Homo sapiens: one gene and its partner. The protein of the gene in region 1 purifies or fractionates together with the protein of each later gene. This does not show direct contact. Each region holds a gene or a part of one and is shown in the gene's direction. Other genes may lie near its edges.

What was found.
Region 2: the proteins of EIF2D (region 1) and CKAP5 fractionate together in Homo sapiens (co-fractionation; one large-scale study listed by BioGRID). This does not show direct contact.

What each region holds. Positions count from the first base shown.
Region 1 is NC_000001.11:206,602,223-206,606,040, reverse strand, and holds part of EIF2D (eukaryotic translation initiation factor 2D), read left to right. Parts: intron 1-533; coding exon 534-641; intron 642-2,836; coding exon 2,837-3,090; intron 3,091-3,587; coding exon 3,588-3,705; intron 3,706-3,818. UniProt on the Homo sapiens protein: Translation initiation factor that is able to deliver tRNA to the P-site of the eukaryotic ribosome in a GTP-independent manner.
Region 2 is NC_000011.10:46,839,693-46,843,510, reverse strand, and holds part of CKAP5 (cytoskeleton-associated protein 5), read left to right. Parts: intron 1-3,818. UniProt on the Homo sapiens protein: Binds to the plus end of microtubules and regulates microtubule dynamics and microtubule organization. Acts as a processive microtubule polymerase. Promotes cytoplasmic microtubule nucleation and elongation. Plays a major role in organizing spindle poles.

The sequences.
Region 1 (3,818 bases):
GATATATAGTTACACTGAGCAACCCCTCTTATAAAGTCAACTTAGAAGGAACTTCTCTAGTTGGCCCCACTATGTGTCTCTTCTCTCTTCCCTATGGCATCCCTCAGCCTAATTTATGATATATGAATTGCCTCCCCTTTAAACTTCCTTATGGGATGGCTATGACTTCTTTAAGGTAGAGGAGATAATTTATATTTTTGAAATTAATGAAAGGGAACATTAAATATCCTTCCAAGACCCACCTGGAGATTTAATTCACAGCAGGAATAAAACAAAGGCAGTGATAAAGTCAATAGAGGAGTTACTAATACAGAAGTTTAGTGTTTAGTTTAATATTTGGTCAAGGGATTTTTGAAAGTAATATTTGTACATAATCTGAAGAAAACTGAGAGTGGACTGAGTTTGGTTTTATGATACAAGACCTTCGAATTGGTAACCTTGGTATTTTTACCACATGTGTCAGAAGATGATCCTAACATGTGCCCTTCCCATAGATTTTCCATGACCCTGGTCTCTGGCTTCCTTCTTCTTAGAGCCCCTGTAGCCATTGGAGTTGCAGCCATGTCCACAGCTGAGATGCTCACGTCAGGCCTGAAGGGAAGGGGCTTCTCTGTGCTCCACACTTACCAGGACCACTTGTGGTGGGTACAGAGTTTCTTCTGTTTTACAGAGAACCGGGGCAGCTGGGGAGAGGATGGGGCCTGTGATTCAGGAGTGAGAGTTTTGGTCCTAGCCATGTCTTTAAGCAAGTTGCTAAGCCCAGACTTTTATTTCCTTACAAATATAAAGAAAATATTTTTTTCCCCTGTTTGGACAAGTAATGAGAGAGAACTTTATTTTCTAAGTGAATTATAGAATCTTAGACCCAAAGGAAGACCTTAGGGATCATCTGCTCTGCCTCTCAGTACAGTGATACTCGTTTTTTTATAGCCCTGGTCAATCTGGCCCTAGCTGCGATGCACATTTTAGACATCATGTGACCCCATGATGAGTGCTTCTGAATCCTAATCACTGCAGGGTAGACCTTTAGACTCCAGGATTATAACCTGATTACTTTTATGTTATTCAGATTTCACATTCCAGACTCCTCCTCCTCATGAAAGTAACGCATTCTGACTGTAAAGGTTGCATTCTTGAGACGCGTACCTGTTCATTTTCTGGTTATTTTCTTGTCATTTTAGCAAAACAGTAAGCAGTGATTTTCTCAAAGCACACATTTAGCCAAGTATTGTGGCCTGTTGGTATAGATTCATTCTTATATTTTCCAGCCCAGTCTTGGAATTATTAATTTTTTTTTTTTTTTTTTTTGAGATGGAGTCTCGCTCTGTCGCCCAGGTTGGAGTGCAGTGGCGTGATCTCAGCTCACTGCAAGCTCCACCTCCCGGTTCACTCCATTCTCCTGCCTCAGCCTCCTGAGTAGCTGGGACCACAGGTACCTCCCACCACGCCCGGCTAATTTTTTGTATTTTTAGTAGAGACGGGGTTTCACCATGTTAGCCAGGATGGTCTCGATCCATTGACCTTGTGATCCACCCACCTCGGCCTCCCAAAGTGCTGGGATTACAGGTGTGAGCCACTGCGCCCAGCCTTTTTTTTTGAGATGGAGTTTTGCTCTTGTTGCCCAGGCTGGAGTGCAGTGGCGCAATCTCAGCTCACTGCAACCTCTGCCTCTCGGTTCAAGTGATTCTCCTACCTCAGCCTCCCGAGTAGCTGGGATTACAGGCTTGTGCCCAAAACATCCGGCTAATTTTTTTGTTTTTAGTAGAGACAGGGTTTCACCGTGTTGGCCAGGCTAGTCTCGAACTCCTAACCTCACGTGATCTGCCCATCTAGGCCTCCCAAAGTGCTGAGATTACAGGCGTGAGCCACCGCTCCCCGCCGGACTTACTGATTTTACAAGTACTTGCCAAGTCCTCCTTTGCTGGTACAAGCTCATTTTTGCCTGTTTTTAGATATTTGAGGGCTGATGACTGATGTTCTCCTAGCACCTTGTTGTTTAACTATCAGTCTGGGCAACAGCAATCAAGGTCAGGTTGTCTAAGTTGTTTTAGCAGCAGCTGCTTTGGTTCTCTCGCTGCACCTTGAAAAAAATATTTATGGTATTTACCTGATCAGAATAGCCTAAACATACCCTTTGGCTTTACTGTGAACAACACTGAGAAGCCTTGCCGTAACTATTAGTTAAAACTTAGTTTGATTTGCATAATGTTGGCTAAGATAAAGTTTTTTACTGCTTTGTGTGCTTTGCTATGTGGCATCGCCTGTTTTCCTGTCTTCCTAAGGCTTAGTGGCATAAAACCATGGCAATCTCTGCTTTCCACGTTAGACTGCATTTGATGTAACACAGAAGCCACTGATTTTGCAGTCCTTGAGCAGTCCAGGTGTTTGTGTTTTATTACATATGCTGAGCCGTGGGTTTGCATTTCACCAAACAGATATTACAGATGCATTCGCGATCTTAATGTTCATATTTAATTCAAATTGGTTTTGTTATTAACTCAGATGAAGGGAACATTTTTGGGAGTTTATCTTAAACTCCTTTTTCTTTAATCTTTCTCAGTCTTGGGATGTCTATTAATAGTATTATTCTTTTGGGATAGGGAGGAGACAAGATTTATTCTCCCCATTTCAGAGATGAAGAAACTGAGGCATGGAACTTTTAGGGGCCCAGAATTGAAAGTACGCTTGAGATGAGGGCACAGGCTCTCTGCCCCCTCCTGGCCACTCCTGCCTGTTGGCTCTCTGCTGTCTCTGACCTCACTGCTGACTCCTCTGTGGCCAGGGCTGGAGAGTATTGGAGCTGCTGCTTGATGTTTCTGACATGAGATTTTTCCAGGCGGTCTGGAAACAAGTCCTCTCCACCTTCCATTGCTCCACTGGCCCTGGATTCAGCAGATCTCAGTGAAGAGAAGGGGTCTGTCCAGATGGACTCCACCCTGCAGGGAGACATGAGGCACATGACCCTGGAGGGGGAAGAGGAGAATGGGGAGGTTCACCAGGCACGTGAAGACAAGTCTCTCTCAGAAGCCCCAGAAGACACCAGCACCAGGGGCCTGAACCAAGACTCCACAGATAGCAAAACGCTTCAAGGTATAACTCTAGGAGGAGAAGAGCCCATCTCCCCACCTCTCAATTTAGGAGCCTGACGAACTCCACTCCACTGCTGACTAGAATGGCCCTTAAGCTTCCGGGGGAGGAGGGGAAGGTCCTTATTTTCTGTGAGGGTGGCGCAGCAGCCCTTTCACATCTTGTTTTTGAATCCTTTCCACATAAGTCACGTCTTCCTGGGAGCTAATCTGCCCTGGCATTTGCCTGTCTTCAGCTACAAAGCCCTCCAAGGTTTCTTCTGGCTCAACTTCTCTGGGTGAACACTCCTAGCTTGGTGGGACTTTGTGGCTTGACTCCTTCTCTGGGGTCAACCCTCTTTAAAGGCTCAGTGCTCAAGAGAGGCTGGGAGCTTTGGTACCTGGGAATGGGTTCCTTTCAGAGCCAAGTGGGTGAGGTAGGGATGAAGCTGGGGGTCGTTTTCTTGTACCAGGTGTTCTGTATCCCTCAGGAAGGATGTGGCTCTTGTCTTTTCCCTGCAGAACAAATGGATGAGCTGTTACAGCAATGCTTCTTACATGCCTTGAAGTGCCGAGTCAAAAAGGCTGACCTCCCTTTACTCACCAGCACTTTCCTTGGCAGCCACATGTTCTCCTGCTGGTATGGAAAGCACTGATGTGGGCTGGAGGCCGGGGCCGGGGTCTCACGTGTGCTCCTTGGTAGTAGGACAGGATGGGGCCAATGCAGGGACTGGTTGAGGGACATGCTGTGGA
Region 2 (3,818 bases), on another chromosome or scaffold:
GATCCTTTTGTCTCGGCCTCCCAAAATGCTGGGATTACAGGCGTGAACCACTACGCCTGGCCTTCTCTTAATCTAACTGTAGCCCTGTTCGGGGCTTCACCAATGGCTCTTGGTACTACTGTACCTGGGGCTTCCATATGAAGGAGTCCCAGGAATTTCTTTTTGCCACTCCCTGACCATTTTACCTACTTATATACAGAAGGCTTGGGGTCCCCAGCAGGTGGTTGAGCCAAGAGACCCTTGCCCATTTGCCAGTCTTTATCTTGACTCATCTACCTATTGTTTCCACAATTTCAGATCAGATTTCTCATTGTAATCTGCCTCCTGACTTACAATTTCTCCAAACTGGGGTAAATATAGCAAACTTGTTTGGAACCCCTTAATGGTGGGAGACCAGCAGGGTCTCCCTTTGGCTCCCAGGCTAGTCTTGAACTCCTGGGCTCAAGTGATCATCCTGTCTTGGCCTCCCAAAGTGCTGGGATTATAGGCATGAGCCACCACACCCTGCTACCTTACTTCTTTTTTTTTTTTTTTTTTTTTTTTTGAGACGGAGTCTTGCTCTGTCACCCAGGCTGGAGTGCGGTGGCGCGATCTCGGCTCACTGCAAGCTCCGCCTCCCAGGTTCACGCCATTCTCCTGCCTCAGCCTCCCAAGTAGCTGGGACTACAGGCGCCCGCTACCAAGCCCGGCTAATTTTCTGTATTTTCAGTAGAGATGGGGTTTCACCTTGTTAGCCAGGATGGTCTCGATCTCCTGACCTCGTGATCCGCCCGCCTCGGCCTCCCAAAGTGCTGGGATTACAGGCGTGAGCCACCGCGCCCGGCCTACCTTACTTCTTAATAACCATTTAAAAATTTCCACCTTCCGGGTTGAATCCATTTGCCCTCTGTCTCACCATTCTCTTAACCTAATGGTTTTATTAGCATCTGTAAGACCCACGAGAGGAAACTGAGACAGCACATTTGATAAGGCTTCTCGAACTGTCTTTTGATTTTGCAACAGTAAGGTTATCCACATTAAGGGGTCACCCTTAACCACAGCATTTACCATGACTGGGTAGTGGGCATATTCAGAGGGTAAATGTCCTAGTCATCATAAAGCCAGTTTCACATGGCTTGCATATGAAGTATATCAGTGGCTCTATCTGGATCTGGGGTGTTCCACTTGGCATTTATGGAATCAGACTGTCCCCTTCAGGAAGCTTATGATACTAATGTACAAAGTGAAACAATTCCTTCACATTGTACCCCCTGGTTTCAATAGTTCTTTGATTTTTGCAGACCACCTTCTTTGTTACCAGAGGTCTTAGAAGCACTTTCTGTTGTCCCGGCATACATTTTTCCCTTGAGGGACAGCTTTGAGGTTAGTGGCCTAAGCTCTCACATTCACTGAAAGCTGAGCTTGGTCTAGCGGGAAGGTCCAACCCACCACTTTCTTTTAATTTCATTTTAGCTGTTACAGATAACAATAACCAAGGGATTTAACATTTCGCTTTTTTTTTTTTTTTTTTTTTGAACCAAAGTCTTACTCTTTCTCCAGGGCTGGAGTGCAATGGCACGATCTCGGCTCACTGCAACCTCTGCCTCCCAGGCTCAAGTGATTCTCCTGCCTCAGCCTCCTGAGTAGCTGGGATTACAGGCGTGAGCCACAGCACCCGCCTAAATTTTTTGTATTTTTAGTAGAGATGGAGTTTCACTGTTAGCCAGATGGTCTCAATCTCCTAACCTCGTGATCCTCCTGCCTTGGCCTCCCAAAGTGCTGGGATTACAGGCGTGAGCCACCGTGCCGAGCCAGCATATCACTTTTTTAATACTAGTTTGCATTTCCTTGTGCATCCTGTGAACCAACTCCCAGGCAGTTGGATCCATCTCTGGATTCCATGGATAACTTTTACCTTTAGTAATTGATGACAGCACAGCTTCAGCTCTTTACCATGGGTGACCACTTGGCCACCTAAGAATCAAAGTTCTTTATCCCTATCCTTTTATCCTTTTTCTTCCCAAACCATATGTGTCTGTGAGCCAAGTCATTCTAGCAAATCCCAATTCTGACGCCAATTCTGAGAATATAGAATAAGAAACTTTAATAAGTTTATCTTATACTCTCACAATACAGAAAACTTCTGTGACCTCAGATGTGTGAGATTTTTTTCCCCACACACCAAGCAAGTAGTTCTTCAGCAGTGGACACTAGCTGTGTGTCCTCTAATTCAGTTCAATTCTGACACCTTTTTTTTTTTTTTTGAGACAGAATTGCTCTGTTGCCCAGGCTGGAGTGCGGTGGCGCAGTCTTGGCTGACTGCAACCTCTGTCTCCCGGGTTCAAGAGATTCTCCTTCCTCAGCCTCCCGAGTAGCTGGGATTACAAGAACCCACCACAACACCCATCTAATTTTTTGTATTTTTAGTAGAGACGGGGTTTCTCCATTTTGGCCAGGCTGGTCTTGAACTCCTGGCCTCAAGTGATCCGCCCGCCTCAGCCTCCCAAAGTGCTGGGATTACAGGCATGAGCCACCTCACCTGGCCAATTCTGACACTTTCTATCTGGAGGTAGTGTCAGATCCCACAGGTTGAGGGTTTAGTCCCAGAAGACTGCCCCCAACTCAGATGCCAATCTGAAGCCCCAGGTTTTTTTTTACCTGTGCTTCTGTAGGCTGACTATAAAAATGGGCATTCCTAATACCGCCCCCCATTCCCTGCCTTGGGTTTGATTAATTTGCTAGACCTGTTCATAGAACTCAGGAAAACACATTTTCCAGCCAGTTTATTATAAAGGATATTGCAAAGGATACAAAGAGCTATATAGGGTGAGGTATAGGGGAAGAGGCATGGAGCTTCCATGCCCTCTCTGGGCACACCACGCTCCAGGGACCACCATGTGTTCAGCTCTCAGCTTCTCCAGCAGCAAAGTTTTAATTGCAATAAATTTGAGTACCTTAATATTATGAACACTGTTCTAGGTTTTTGGTAAGCAATTAAAAATAATAAACAACTTTAACAGTGCCTTAGGATAAGTGTTAAAAATTTTGACAGGGAATGAGTATGTTAAGGTAAAGCCAGGCTCTCTTATGCTCCTTTAATGGGGTCTTATTCATTCATTGAACAGATATTGAGATTGATGCTTAATGTCTGTCACACATTGTTCTAGATTCAGGGAATACACTGGTGAACCAGAAAAAGACAAAGGCCCTGACCTAAGGGAGTTTGACAGTTTTATCTGTCAAACAATTTACTGTAGCAAATTATAGTTTCTGTAATCCCTCTGGGGTCAGCTCTGGTCCTTGAATAAAATACATGCCCAGATACTTTTACTAGCAGTAGCTAACATGTATTGAATGCCTACTGGGTCCCACATTTTGTTTAATTAATTAATTAATTAATTTTTTTGAGACAGGATCTCACTCTGTCGCCCAGGCTGGAGTGTAGTGGTGTGATCATGGCTCACTGTAGACTCAACCTCCTGGGCTCAATCTGTCCTCCCACCTCAGCCTCCCAAGTAGGTGGGCCTACAGGCACATGCTAATTTTTGTATTTTTTGTAGAGATGGGGTTTTGCCATGTTACTCAGGCTGGTCTCAAACTCCTGGGCTTAAGCAATCTGCCCTCCTTACCCTCCCAAATTGCTGGGGTTACAAGCATGAGCCAACATGTCCCGCTACATTTTATCTTTTTTTATCCTCACAATGTTTTACAGATGAGGAAACTGAGTCTTTAAAAGGCTGTGCAACATGCTCAAAATCATAGAACTAAGTGATAGAATCTGAATTCAAACCCAAGTCAGTCTGTCTCCAGGGCCTTTGCTCTTAACCTATGATTGTACT